Regions from separate parts of the Homo sapiens genome. Here regions 1 and 3 are each linked to region 2. The links come from fine-mapping of genetic effects on gene expression. A gene starts in region 2. Each other region holds a variant in brackets. All regions are shown on one strand. Distances are from middle to middle.

Region 1 (5,000 bases), 71 kb after region 2:
CTTGAACTCCTGGGCTCAAGTGATAATCCTGCCTCAACCTACCAAATTCCTGCGATTATAGGTGTGAGCCACCATCCCCGATGTGTTTCTACTTCTTGGCTACTATGAATAATGGCTTTGTGAGCATTCACGTACAAGTTTTTCCACGGACATATGTTTTCAGTTCTCTTGGGTAGACACCTGGGAGTGGACTTGCTGGGTCAAATGGCAACTCTTTGTTTAACTTTTAGAGGAACTGTGAAACTGCTTTTCAAAGTGGCTCTGCAGTTCTGCATTCTCACCAGCAATGTATGAGGTGCCAGTGTCTCCACGTCTTCACCAATATTTTTTATTGTCCAGCTTTTTTAATGTATTCATCCTTGTGTGTGGGAAATGGTATCTCTTTGTGGGTTTTTTTTTATTTACATGGAAGACCACACACGTGAATAATTCAAGCAAGGAATTCACGTCACCCAGGCTGGAGTGCAGTGGCGCAATCTTGGCTCACTGGAACTTCCGCCTCCTGGTTCAAGCAATTCTCCTGCCTCAGCCTCCCAAGTAGCCGGGACTATAGGCACATGCCACCACACCCAGCTTATTTTTGTATTTTTAGTAGAGACAGGGTTTCACCATATTGGCCAGGCTGGTCGTGAACTCCTGACCTCATGATCCGCCCACCTCAGCCCCCCAAAGTGCTGGGATGACAGGTGTGAGCCACCACGCCTGGCCCTCTTTGTGGTTTTGATTTGCATTTCCCTAGTAACTAACAATATTGGGCATCTGTTTCCGAGATGAGAAATTTGCCGTCACCCAGGTGGGTGGGGAGGAAAGCTGAAAATACTTTAGGCATCTCTTTTTTTTTTTTTTTTTTTTTTTTTTTTTTGAGACGGGAGTCTCACTCTGTCGCCCAGGCTGGAGTGCAGTGGCGCGATCTCAGCTCACTGCAAGCTCCGCCTCTCGGGTTCACGCCATTCTCCTGCCTCAGCCTCCCGAGTAGCTGGGACTATAGGCACCCGCCACCACGCCCGGCTAATTTTTTTTTGTATGTTTAGTAGAGACGAGGGTTTCACCACGTTAGCCAGGAGGGTCTCGATCTCCTGACCTCGTGATCCGCCCGCCTCGGCCTCCCAAAATGCTGGGATTACAGGCGTGAGCCACCGCACCCAGCCTACTTTAGGCATCTCTTATTGTGGTAAATGCCAGCCTTGGATAGATCCCTCTAAATGAAAGGATGAATTTCAGCAAAACAACTAATAATTACTTGGAGCCAATGAAAAGTTTCAGCTCAGGAAAAAGTATTTACTTTGAAGATTCAGAGGAAAAATATCTCTCAAAATTGTTTTCTCTGGGAAAACAGAAAATTTTAGAGGATATCAGTTTAGTATCCCGAGAAAGATATAAGAAGACTTAATATACGTGAACTAGTAACAACTTCCATAAGATCACAGGGTGAGATGAAGGGAGAAATAAAAATCCAGTTTATGGCCAGGTGCAGTGGCTCACCCCTGTAATCCCACCACTTTGAGAGGCCGATGTGGACGGATCACCTGAGATCAAGGAGTTTGAGACCAGCCTGGCCAATATGGTGAAACCCTGTCTCTACTAAAAATACAAAAATTAGCCGGACGTGGTGATGGGCATCTGTAGTCCCAGCTACTCAGGAGGCTGAGGCAGGGGAATCACTTGAACCTGGGAGCCGAAGGTTGCAGTGAGCCGAGATCGTGCCACTGTACTCCAGCCTGGGAAACAGAACAAGACTCTATGTCAAAAAAAAAAAAAGAAAGAAAAATTCAGCTTATCCAAGTAAGAAAAACAAAACTAAGAGCAGAATTATATATTAAGACACAAATGGAATGACTCAGTCTCAGTGGAGACAATAGAATCAGTGATGTAGTGAGTAGCTTGAGAATGCAAGGGAAAAAAGAGATTAAAATGGGGTGGGGTGGAAATTATCTTTGTTGACAAAAGGAGGTAAGGATTCAGCCTAAGAATAGTAAGTGTACCCAAGCAAGAAAGCAGGATAATTGAAACAGATAAGTGTGTTATAAATAAATACATAACAAATATATAACAAAAATAATAGAAGACTGTCTTCAGAATTGGAAGAAGGAAGACTGGGACTGAAGAATTTCGTACCCAGCTCACTGTCATTTATGTTGAAACCAACAAAAGGTCATTTTCAGATATGCAAAAAGTTTAGAAATACATCACTCATTTGTCTTCACTGAAATACTGATTTTAGTCTTCCCAAATTAGTTTATATATTTAACCCAAATGCCAGTGTTTT[GT/G]TTTTTTTTTTTTTTTTTTTTTTGGTTTTTTGTTCTTTTCCCTTTGATAAACTTTTTCTAAAGTTTGCCTGGAAGAATATTCAAGTGAAAATAACTAAGAGAGTTTGGCAAAAAACCTAATAATACAGGAACACTAGTTTGCAGTACATTATAGGCAGATCAGTGGAACAGGAAAACATGTAAAAACAATACATGATAAGGAAAAAGTTTGCATGAAAGGGCCAGGCATGGTGGTTCACACCTGTAATCCCAGCACTTTGGGAGGCCAAGGTGGGAAGATCACTTGAGCCTAGGAGTTCAAGACCAGCCCAGGCAACATGGCGAAACCCCATCTCTACAAAAAATACAAAAATTAGCCTGGCATGCTGGTGCACACCTGTAGTCCCAGCTTCTCGGGAGTCTGAGGCAGGAGAATAGCTTGAACCCTGGAGGTGGAGGTTGCAGTGAGCCAAAATCACGCCACTGCATTCCAGCCTGGGCAACAGACCGAGACTGTCTCAAAAAAAAAAAAAAATGATTTTTTTCAAGTGCTTTAAATGGTTATGTATAGTATAAATAATCTACAATGGAGATATATATATATATATATATAACTTTGATAAAAAATATGGTTAAACAATAGGGGTTTATAAAAACCTAATTATTTCTGCTCTCAGACTAATTAATCCTTACAGTCAGCATGTAATATTAGCCTACACCAGCTCGACAGACTTGATCTCGTTAGATTCATGAGATAGAATAAAACTTGGCCATTATTCTTCACAAAGAATGATTGTGGCTTGAAGTTTTAAAAGCGCAGAAATAAAGAAGGAAATCACAATTAAACAAAGCCACTTTTCCCAATTTCAAGAAATAAGAGCTTTCAGAAAGAGTTGGCAGCCTTGCATCCTCATCTGGAGGCTGCAGGCGGTGCCTCACAGCCCTGTGCCCGCCCTGATACTGGGAGATGCACCTGGACTTCATGGAACCCTGTGGGTCATGCTTCCGGACCTGTCGGCTGACACATCTTGCTGTGCAGCTTCTCCACCTGCTCTCCATCACTAGAAGCTACAATAGTCTTTCTGTTTCCAAGGAGATTTGCCTTTGATCAGAGTGCCATAAATGTAGATGGATGACTAACCGAGAGCGCAGGCCACTCACCGCCATTCCTGGTGTTGATAAATGTACCCCTTTACTGTCCACATACTCCAGAGCTTGCAGTTCCTTCCGCTGGTACTCACAGTTACTGAAATCATGTCATTAGTCTCAGTCTGCCTGCCAGATATTTCAGATGCCTTTGAAATACTGTTCTTGCAGTAGCAATTCATTTTTTTAAGTGCTAAAAAAAAACTTGCAGTTTTATTTGTGAAGTGTAATTTTGCCTGGAGATATAACATTTTGGTCTGGGTTAAATAGCTCCTAAATTCTCAACTGAAATGGATATCCTTGAAAACTGATTTATCAAGCTCCTGAGAGTGAACTATCACCTTGCTTCCACTAAGTAATTTGTAAGGTCTAAGATCCGCAGTCCCTGGTGTTTTTTTTTTTTTTTTTTTTTTTTTTTTTTTTTTTTGGTATAAGTAGCTCTCAGACTTTTACCCACATGAGTTTCCATTAAAATTGTACAAGCTTTGACTTTAAATCAGCTGATGAATAGAAGGAGTTGATGTGTGATCAGCTGGTGCTATTGGGAAAACTGATGATAAGCAGTGGAGCAGGTAAGAACGTATTGTTCCTGAACCATTGGAGGAACTAGCAGCAGTGACCTCTGAGGAGCCCTGGGAACACCCTGGAGCTCCTGAGCAACACGTTGCTTGTGATCACTGACCTGGATATCATGACTGTGTGAGCAACACCCCCCACACCTCAGTAGCAAAAACAGAGAACAGTGGCAGCACATCGTGGGCTGACTGCAGTTGATTCTGGCTCTCTTACATGAGAATGCCAAGTCATACAAGAAAGTGCCTGCCATGCTGAGCTTCTCTTTACCTTCTTGGGTTTTAATGGCATTGCAAGTTATCAGTATAAAAACTCATATTAGTTATACTAAATAGTTGGACCAAGTTAAGATATTAGGTTGTTATGTAGTGTGCATTTTAAAGTAAAACAAATGATAGAGCTTTTAGAAGCATCTATTATGAAAATGTTCCTTCAAGTCTGTGCCTTATGAATCTAATAAGCTTTTGCTTTTATATCAGGTTATCTGTGCTACAATTGCATTTGGAATGGGGATTGACAAACCGGACGTGCGATTTGTGATTCATGCATCTCTCCCTAAATCTGTGGAGGGTTACTACCAAGAATCTGGCAGAGCTGGAAGAGATGGGGAAATATCTCACTGCCTGCTTTTCTATACCTATCATGATGTGACCAGACTGAAAAGACTTATAATGAGTAAGCTGGGCTCCATTGTAGAGACATTCTGTCATCTTCAGCCTCATGATAGTAGTCTACTCCTGCTATTGTGGTACTTCTGGTCCAGTTTTCCTTAAATAATCGTAGAAAAATAGAGGAGTTTATACAGATTGGCAATTTTATTTTAGTTCATTTTTATTATAAAAGTGGTAAGTGCTTATTTTGTAAAACTCAAATGATACAGATGTGTACAAGGCAGAAAATTTACAAACCATGCCTTGTAGTTTTGCCCCCAAAATAACTCTAGTTATTGGTTTCCTTTGTATCCTTTCAGACCCTATTTCTGCATGCATTCTTGCATGTAACACATATTTCAAACATGCAGGAAGATAAAAAGGA
Region 2 (5,355 bases):
GACCTCGTGATCCACCCACCTCGGCCTCCCAAAGTGCTGGGATTACAGGCGTGAGCCACTGCGCCCGGCCCTATATACTCTTTTATCTACCTCTTTTTGTGCTCAGCATAGTGTCTGAGCTTCATCTATATTGTATGTACCAGTAGTTCATCCTCCTATTACTTTGTAATACAGAAAAAAACTGAGAAAAGCTTTGAAATGGTCTAAAACAGATTACTGGGGCCAGGCATGGTGGCTCAAGCCTGTAATCCCAGTACTTTGGGAGGCCAAGGCAGGCAGATCACCTGAGGTCAGAAGTTCATGACCAGCCTGGACCACATGGTGAAACCCCATCTCTACTAAAAATACAATAAATTAGCCAGGCGTGGTGGCACGTACCTGTAGTCCCAGCTGCTCGGGAAGCTGGGGCAGGAAAATCGCTTGAACCTGGGAAGTGGAGGTTGCAGTGAGCTGAGATCACACCACTGTACTCCAGTCTGGGTGACAGAGCAAGACTCCATCTAAGACAAACAACAAAAAAATGATTACTGGGTGTCATTGAAAAACAAGGTGCCCAGCTGTCCAGCTTACTTTTCTAGGATGTCTGATTCTATGAAGACTCTAAACCTTTCACTGTCTTTGAGCTACAGAACAACTATACAAACTATAGACACTTCTTGTCTATAGAAATGCAAATTGTGGCCGGGCACGGTGGCTCATGCCTGTAATCCTAACACTTTGGGAGGCCAAGACAGGCGGATCACCTGAGGTCAGGAGTTCGAGACCAGCCTGGCCAACACGGTGAAACCCTGTCTCTACTAAAATACAAAAAGCTAGCTGGGCATGATGGCGGGTGCCTGTAATCCCAGCTACTCGGGAGGCTGAGACGGGAGACTCTATTGAACCTGGGAGATGGTGGTTGCGGTGAGCCGAGCTTGCGCCACTGCACTCCAGCCTGGGCGGCTGAGTGAGACTCCGTCTCAAAAAAAAAAAAAAAAAAAGAAATGCAAATTGTTTTCAGTAGAATGCAATTGATTACTAAGCTGTGGATTTCATCAGTTCTGCCAGTTTTTGTATATATTTGTAGTTATTTCATTATTCCTCATTTGACTATGTGTGTGGTACTTTGAATTTTCCATTGAAGCAGTTGTAATCTTTCTGGATATCTCATTCATTAATGAGTTAAATAAAATCTCTAACATTTATTTTATATCTGTATTATATTTGATATTAAAATTATTCTTCAACAGTAGTATACAGTTATATGAATAAGCTGCAATTTATCTATTCATCTATTGGTGGACATCTGGGTTTTTTCCCTTTGGCTATTATGAATAAAGCTGCTATGAGTCTTTTGGTGAATAAAGGCATTCATTTTTTGGGGTAAATATCTAGAAATGGGATTTCTGGGGTATAGGGTAGGGGTAAATTTGATTTCAGTAGAGACTGATGTTTCCAAAGTGGTTGTACCATTTTACACTCCCATCAACACTGTATGAGAGTCCCATTTCTGCATCTTTGCAACTAAGGGAATTGTCAGTCTTTTCATTTCAGCTATTCTATGGAGTGTTTAATAGTATCATATTTTGGTTTCAATTTACCATAGAAGATTTTCAGGAGGGAGGTAACTTGAACAGATTTTTACATTTTAGAAAACTCTTTCTGCGTATTATGTGGAGAATGATTATTTGTATACCAAAGTTCATAGCAGCATTATTCACAATAGCCAAAAGGTGGGAATAACCAAGCATCCATTTATATGGATGAATGGATAAACAAAATGTAGTATACATGTATAATGGAATATTATTTAGCCTCAAGAAGGAAGAAATTCTGATACATGCTACAACATAGATGCTCCTTGAAGACATTATGCTAAGTGAAATAAGCCAATCAGAAAAGAGCAATTATTGTATGATTCAATTTATATGCGGTACCTCGCACTTACAGACAGAAAGTGCAATATCGGCTATAAGGGGTTGTGAGAAACGGGTAACGGGGAGTTACTGTGTAACAGGCAGATTTTCTATTTGGGATAATGAAAAAGTTCTGGAGATGGATAGTGGTGATGGTTTCACAACAATGTGAATGTACTTAATGCCAGTGAACTGTACACTTAAAAATGGTGAATTTTATGTTAGATAGATTTTATCACACACACAAAGAGGAGGGAGGGCGGGAGGGAAGGAGAGAGGGAAGGAAGTAGAGAGGGGAGAAGAGAGGAAGAAAGGAAAGAAAGTAAGATCTGGCATCACAGGGCCCACATTCCCGCGTGTCAGCAATAGGCTGAAACAGAAGCATGGTTTCTCACGTGTCCATGGAGGCATCTGAGTGTGTGCCCACTTTCCCGGTTCAATGACAATTTGCACCTGCTCGTGTAGAGGGGTACGGGTGAAACAGAGACCAGTATTATTAAGGGGATGGAGAGGAGAGACCGCCAAAACATCGCAGAGACACACCGTCGGAACCAAGAGAATGGGGTGCAGACGCCTGGCTTGGCCTGTGGGAACTGGCAAGTCTCAGCTCTCAAACGCCCGGGCTTTTCAACCCGCCACAGCCGGGTTCCAGCTGCCTACTTCCTTTAAAGCCTTCACCGACTCTAAAACACCAAAAACAAAGACCCAACTAGCTCCGGAAGCCCGAGATGTAACCGTAGTCATCTGACCCTCCCGTCCGGACTCTGATTGGGCTTTGGAGATACGCGTCCCTCCCGGCGCTGTACGGCGACCCCGCCCCAGCAGCCTGAGGGGGCGGGAACAGATGTCCGAGTGCGACAGTATTGGTCGGCTTCCCCAGGAAGCAGCCAATCGGAATAGGCAAGCTTCCGGCGGGAAGTGAGCCAGGGCTTGGCGCGGCGGCCGTGGTTGCGGCGCGGGAAGTTTGGATCCTGGTTCCGTCCGCTAGGAGTCTGCGTGCGAGGTGAGTACCGCGCGCGTAACTACGGGTCGGTCCGCATTGATCTAGCCCTGCTCTGGCGGCCCGGCCCGGAGCTGGAGGCCGCTCGGGTTCTTCCGTTTCCTGCACTGGTTCGCCTCGGCCCGCTGAGTCCTCTAGTCTGGCCAACATCCTGGGAGGACAGCAGATACATAAATACGTTCCCAAATGGGGAAACAGAGGCCCGGGGCGGGGGCGAACTCTGCCAAGGTCTCCCGGGGCGTCGGAGGCCGAGCATGGGCTAGGACCTGGCATGTTGTTGCCCATATACTCCAGTGCGTAACATGATGCCCTGCACAGAGTAATCCCAGCCCAGACCTCTGGCACTACTACCTCCGTGTCCCTCCTGAGGAACAACGAAAACACTTTGTACTTTTTCTGTGGCCTTCCATAATCACGAGCTGGGCTACTCTTGTTTTTGAGTGTCTACTGTGTGCCATGTTCCTGGCACCCTTGATCTTACAACTGTAGCTTTACGATATCCCAGCAAAGCGAAGTGCTTAAGAATACTGCATCAGATTGCTTGGGTTCGAATTCTGGCTCCTTCACATTTAGCTCTGTGTCTACTGCACGTTACTGAAACACTAAGTGTCTTGGTTTTCGTCTGTCATATGGGGGAAATGGTCTCTTCTACTTCCTGGCGTTTTTGTTAGGATTAAACGACTTAATATATGCAATAATAAATGCTTCGAAGGCTACCTGTTACATAGTACACAGTAAGGGTTCTGTTATCATTACCCAGAGAAGCGGATGAAATTGTCCCCATTTTAGACATGGAGAATCTGAAGTACAAAGAGGTTGTCTCCGTACAGAAAGAGCATTTGGTGATTAAGTGCTAGAGATACAGGATTTGAACTAAGCGCCTGATTTTAAAGTATGTCCCACAACATTAGGCTTTCTCCTATAGCCCTCACCTGTCCTTAGGTCACACAGAACTTTAGGTACCTCATGGCGTGAGATGGAGCAGGTGACTGACAGCTCCTTGTGCCACCCATGCAGATAAATAACACTGGTGTGTCACTGTCAAGATTAAGGGACAGGAATTCGAGAGACTGCATGAGAGATCAGAAGATGAAGAAGCGGGTAGGCAAAAGTATTCTGTTTGGGGAATAGTAAATAGAATTAATTAAATCAACATTTTGTTAGCTGGGCTGCTTATACTGTCAGACAGTAGCTTATAATCTACTGGGAAGAAATGAAATTTCTGGGTCCTGTGTCACTTTCAATGCCACTCACCATGACAGGTACCTTATAAGTATAGTTTACAGTCCTATCAGTAACCTGGAGAAGTAGTTATTTCCTTCGTTTTACTGAGGAAACCAAGAGTTAAAAAATCAGGAAAAGTGTTAGATGTGCAGTAGAACATCATCATGCTGGGAAGTTCTACACATCCGCTTCAGGACAGGTGGTATTACCTATGAGCAGGAAGGGAAGGGAAAAAGGTAAGGGGAATGAGTGATAGTTTATTGTTTTGATTTTTAAATTTTTATCTGTTTTTTCCTTTTTCATAGTCATTCCTGGAATGAGTGAGTTTGTTTTTGTTTTTGTTTTTGGGGGATGGAGTCTCGCTCTGTCGCCCAGGCTGGAGTGCAGTGGCGCGATCTTGGCTCACTGCAAGCTCCGCCTCCCGGGTTCATGCCATTCTCCTGCCTCAGCCTCCCAAATAGCTGGGACTACAGGCACCCACCACCACGCCCAGCTAATTTTTTGTATTTTTAGTAGAGACGGGGTTTCACTGTGTTAGCCAGGATGGTCTCGATCTCCTGACCTCGTGATCCGCCTGCCTCCGCCTCCCAAGGTGCTGGGATTACAGGCGAGCCACCGCGCCCGGCCATGAGTGAGATTTTAAATATATCTGAAATGAGGCCAGGCACAGTGGCTCACACCCATAATCCCAGCACTTTGGGAGGATGAGGCGGGCGAATCACCTGAGGCCAGGAGTTCGAGACTTGCCTCACCAACATGGCGAAACTCCCTCTCTATAGTAAATACAAAATTATCTGGGCGTGGTGGTGTGCGCCTGTGGTTCTAGCTACTGGGGAGGCTGAGGCACGAGAATCGCTTGAACCCAGGAGGCTGCAGTTAGTCAAGATTGCACCACTGCACTCCAGCCTGGGTGACAGAGTGAGAGTCCGTCAGTCAATCTACCTGAAATGTTTTATGCCTTTAAAAGAGAGAGAATAGGGCCGAGTTTAACTTTTTAAATTTGGTTGGTGGGTACATGGGTGTAATTCTATTTTCTGTATCTTTATGTAAGAAATATTAAAAATTAAAAGATATACATATATATTTTAATTTACATATATATGTGTTTTTTTCTAAGAGAAAAATGGATAGAATAAAGAGGTCCAAGATAATCGTAGAATAATCCTAGGACTTCAGTGCTGAAAGCCCCTAAGGGTCTCCACTACCTGTAGGATAAAATCTAAACTCCTTGGCATG
Region 3 (5,000 bases), 92 kb after region 2:
TTCTTCATTCCCTCTCCTACGATAATCGGTCATTACAATATTTCACTGACTCTAAGATGCCAACTATATTAAGATACTGTTACTTTATGGACTATTAAGGAAGAAAAAATTCTGCTAATTAAACTATGACACAGTGCTTTTATTGAAAAAATTGTGTTTTACTGATTTAGACATTGATTTTTATTATCCACAGCTGTGTGCCTGTATGAAAAATACATATAATCAAATTACCGTAGGTACTTATAAAAGTTCACATTCAAAGCCTGACTCTTCTGAGTCACTTTTTGACTGAGTCGTCCATGTCTTTGTTTTTCCCTATGTCATCACTAACATTCTCATTAGCCATAAGGCATTTCCAGAGTGTTCCACTATTTTCCCCAGGATTTAATCGAAATCTCTGTTATCAGTTCTGTTTTGAAGGTGGTGGTTTCTTGATGATACCAGAAGGTGTCAACAGAAGGTTGTACATCTCTCAGTAACAAAAATGTAGTGCGGCCTCATCTACTTTGGGCATCTTCTTTCTTAGGTCACGTAAAGCACTTGGTTGTACTTGCGAGAAACTATGGAATTGGGGGCCTGTGTCCTCAGAGACAAATAGTGCCTGGGTTTTTTTTGTTTTGCTTTGTTTTGTTTTTTTGGAGATAAGATCTTATTCTGTCGCCCAGGCTGGGTGCAGTGGTTGAACACAGCTCACTGCAGCCTAGACCTCCTGGGCTCAAGTGATCCTCCTACCCCAGCTTCCTGAGTAGCTGGAACTACAGGCATGTACCACCATGCTTGGCTAGCTTTTTTATTTTTTTGCAGAGACAGGGCCTCACTGTTACCCAGACTGGTCTCATACTCTTAGGCTGAAGCAATCCGCCCTGTCTCAGCCTCCCAAAGTATTGGGATTACAGGCATGAGCTACCACGCTCAGCCAGATAGTGCTTTTCTTAATACCAAATGTATTCCCTGCTACTCTGTTTCAGAACTTTTCTGCATTCACAATCACTTTTTTAATGCTAATCACAGTATAGTCTTTTTGAAGACATGTCATGGCAGTTAGACTCAATACATGAGGTACAAACAGTGCAGTGACTTTGTTGACATGCTGACAGTACTAATAGCTATGACTAAGTTCTCACAAGCATGAGCAGTAACAACCGCAAGGCAGCTGCCATTTAGCCATCAGCAGTTCTAAGACATATCTTGACCTCAGGAATGCTAAATTGTGAAAAGGTGTGTGTCTTAGAATTGATGAAATTTGGTATTTTATGATATGTTATTTCTAGGCGATTAGTGTAGTTTCTTAACTGTCCTCCTTACCTCCAGCTGTGAATGTGATGTACATTTTAATCTTTCAAAACCTAGTAAAACTACAACAGCTTCCCAGATAAAGTATACATTTTATCAAGGGTCTACATTTCTTCCTGCCTCTCCTACTTTATCTTTCATTAAACCCCCTTCATAAACCTTCTGTTCTGTCCACAGTCTCTTGCTTTTCCTCTAAACATGGGAATGATGTGAAAATCACAGATGGGAAAGGATTTGAAATCCACTCTTTGCTCAGCTCAAATACATAGGAATGGTTACTCCCTCACTACCCAGAGCCAGTGCATCAGTCAGTCCTACAGAGCCAGCCTCCAAAACTCACCCAAGCTTGCTTCACTGTGTCTCCACTACTGCATTCCAGTTCACTCCATCCTCACTCGCTCCTGCAATGGCTTCCACCAGGCTCCCGGATTCTACTCTTTCCTTTACAGTCAAGTTCTTAAACAGCAGCCAGGGTGGCCTTTAAATGACAGGCTTGTCTAGCTGCAAGACTGATATGCGACCTCTATGCAGAGGACTCAGCTGGCTGCTTGTTGCCTCAACCCACATGGGGAAAGAGTGGAGGAAGAAAAGTTTGTGCTGGAGGAAGTAACAATTTGGTTATGCC[G/A]TCTAGGGTGGGGTGTACAAGTCTGGAGTGCAGAGAAGAGGCTGGAGCTGGAAATAGAAATGCAGCGTTCTCAGTAAAGAGAGGGCACACCAGTCTCAGCTAGATGAGTACTGGCCATGGGAACAGTGGGCAAGAGCAGATCTGCTCCACTCCACGCACATGGCACAGGTCCCACCCTCAGCTTCCTCCTGCCCTGGCTCTTGCCCTTGCTCTGCCCTGGCCTATGCCGCTGGAATTGGATGGTGGGTTCCTGCCCTCTGTGCCTGTCTGCTGCCTCTGAGGTGCTAACTTTGCCTTTTACAAAATTGGCCTGTGTTCCCAGTACCCTGCAGTTAGTTGGCACTTAGCAGACGTGTGCTGAATGCGTGAATGAGCCTGAATTCAGTGGGTTTTCTATGGGTGATAATTTAAATTCCTAATTTTATGCCTTTGCACAGAATCTTTATCTTCTGATCCTGAGGTTTTGCTTCAAATTGATGGTGTTACTGAAGACAAACTGGAAAAATATGGTGCGGAAGTGATTTCAGTATTACAGAAATACTCTGAATGGACATCGCCAGGTTAGTACACAGCCATGTGTGTTCTCTAAAAGCCTGTTTAATGTGAAGCGACGCGTCTCACTGAATTAGAAGGATGCAGTTGTGTGAATGCTTCCTACACCTCGTCACACTGACATCCAAGTCAGCCCCCAGTGGTGTGCCAGTCACCTCTGAGAGGACACTAGTGCTTATGCCCCCTGTGAGTGCCAGTTCTGAACTTACTCATAGGATCCAAAAGGGGACCTTTGGGCCCAGGGGTTGCTGGTTCCCGTAATGCAAGTGCTCAAGGGATCAGAGCCCTGGGTACCAGTTCCAGATCTGCCACCACGTCATGCTGTGTGGTCTCTAGCAGGCCACCAATAGCCTCTTTGTGAATCAGGTTCCTCCACCAAGGAAGGAACATGTTATCTGACAAACATGTCTAAAGATAAAATTTAAGACTAGTGTTTAAATGTTTTGGAGAAATGAGCATGCAGCTAGAATGTTATTATTGTTAGTCATTGATAGAACCTGCCTGAGTGCATCATTATCAGACGTTCCCGGAGTCACGTTAGGCCTGTCCTGTGGCACTTCTAATCATGAGCTTCATCATCATTACAGCTTTAGAAATCATTGACCTGGGGGAAATGAGAACAACAAAGCATTTTGTTGTAGGAAATATTGAGAGCACAGAAGTCTTCTGCCCTCTGATAACATCACCACGTAATAGGACACAACAGACAGGCCCGGTTCAGTGTTCTTCCTGCTTCCAGACAGGCAGTGTGGGGGTCTTCCCAAGGATGATGGAAATGATGAGCAGGATGAGATAGTTCAAGTTCTCTCTTTACCTAGTCGCTTTTTTTTTTTTTGACAGAGTCTCACTCCAGGCTGGAGTTCAGTGGCACAATCTTGGCTCACTATGCCTCCCAGATTCAAGCAATTATCCCACCTCAGCCTCCCCAGTAGCTGAGACTACAGGCATGCACCACCACACCTGACTTATTTTTGTATTTTTTTGGTAGAGTTGGGGTTTCACTATGTTGGCCAGGCTGGTCTTGAACTTACGACCTCAAGTGATCCACCTGCCTCAGCCTCCTGAAGTGCTGGGGTTACAGGCATGAGCCACCACACCTGGTCAGGTTCTCCTAAATTCTTCTATATGGTAATTAGTCCATTAAAAGCCTTGTTCCGAATACATTTTGACAGTGAGCCAGGGTTGGAGCAGCCATGGTGGAGTCCTGTGCCCTCCATGCTGCTCCTGTAGGGTGGCCTGTAGGACAAGGCAGACCAGCCAGGAAATGGAGACTGGGTCCCCGTGTGAGCTATCTATAGGGAGGTTTCATGCTTTTTGGGTGCCTTGGGATGCAAATACTTATGGAAATTACCATCTTCTTTGCAAATGTGTGCTTTCATGCGGTCTCACCTCCCGCATAATATGTGACATGTTCAGCCATATTGTGCAAAGACAAGTTTTTTTGTCTGTAAAGAGTAAAATAGGATCTAGAATTTTCTTATGTTCATTTACTAAGAAACTATTGTTCAAAGATGAGATACAGGACCGTTTGTTTCCCTTATATTGAGCTGATTTTTTCAGCACATTTAAAATAAGTAAAATTGCCTGCCATCTTTATAGCAGTTGATACTTTTTGAATTGCCTACCAGAACTAACTGCCCAATCAACAACAGGAACACAGGCCATATGCGACAGTATGAGCTAAACCTCATGTCTCTAGTTAACTTCAAGACTATCACAAATTTTTTTAATGAATTCTGATTCTCTTTTGTTAAAAATGAATTGCCATTGAACACTTTGGGGCTTTGTGCAGTAAAAAAAGGTTTGGTTCTTGCTGAATTGTTGAATCCATATGGCAGGGAAGCAGCTAGGTATCTGCTAAAATGGGCCCCTGCAGCGTGTCTCTTCATATACACTAAAAACACGTGGACCAGTGCGACATCACCTGTAAACATCTGCATTTTCCATTTGTAGCTGAAGACAGTTCCCCAGGGATAAGCCTGTCCAGCAGCAGAGGCCCCGGAAGAAGTGCCGCTGAGGAGCTCGACGAGGAAATACCCGTATCTTCCCACTACTTTGCAAGTAAAACCAGAAATGAAAGGAAGAGGAAAAAGATGCCAGCCTCCCAAAGGTCTAAGAGGAGAAAAACTGCTTCCAGTGGTTCCAAGGCAAAGGGGTATGTTTTGTGACATCTTTTTCAATATAGGGAACAAGGGAAGAAAGGACAAAAGTGCAACAGCTCTGCCTTGCTTTGAAGGATTTATTAAAATAAGCCATTATTAAATATTGCTAATGGAATGACAGTTGTTAATGGAGTGACAATTAAGGTTTGATCCAAAACAAAAATATTTGCTTCAAGAAACAACAAAAAATATTTGCTTCAGATGTTTAAAACATCTACTGACTAATAGTTATGACTAAAGTTTTCTTTCTTTTTTTAATTTGAGGACAAAGTCTGACTCTGTTGCCCAGGCTAGAGTGCAGTGGCACAATCTCGGCTCACTGCAACCTCTGCCTCCTGTACTCAAGTGATCCTCCCACCTCAGCCTCC

What was found. PIP is the estimated chance that this variant, and not a neighbour inherited with it, causes the effect.
Region 1: its variant is fine-mapped to the expression of BLM in monocytes (Fairfax 2014, PIP 0.95).
Region 3: its variant is fine-mapped to the expression of BLM in whole blood (TOPMed, PIP above 0.99). The same link has a PIP of 0.9 or more in blood mononuclear cells, lung and monocytes.

What each region holds. Positions count from the first base shown.
Region 1 is chr15:90,786,205-90,791,204 of GRCh38, forward strand. It overlaps BLM (BLM RecQ like helicase), which reads left to right. Exons shown (of 22, transcript NM_000057.4): 15 at 4,445-4,640. Among named protein-coding and RNA genes, the nearest start is that of BLM, 71 kb to the left of the region's middle. The variant GT/G (reference allele first, on the strand shown) is at 2,267.
Region 2 is chr15:90,714,543-90,719,897 of GRCh38, forward strand. It overlaps BLM (BLM RecQ like helicase), which reads left to right and starts at 2,804. Exons shown (of 22, transcript NM_000057.4): 1 at 2,804-2,898. CRTC3-AS1 (CRTC3 antisense RNA 1) reads right to left here and starts at 2,598. Exons shown (of 4, transcript NR_120372.1): 1 at 2,439-2,598.
Region 3 is chr15:90,806,782-90,811,781 of GRCh38, forward strand. It overlaps BLM (BLM RecQ like helicase), which reads left to right. Exons shown (of 22, transcript NM_000057.4): 20 at 2,356-2,478; 21 at 4,424-4,625. Among named protein-coding and RNA genes, the nearest start is that of FURIN, 59 kb to the right of the region's middle. The variant G/A (reference allele first, on the strand shown) is at 1,919.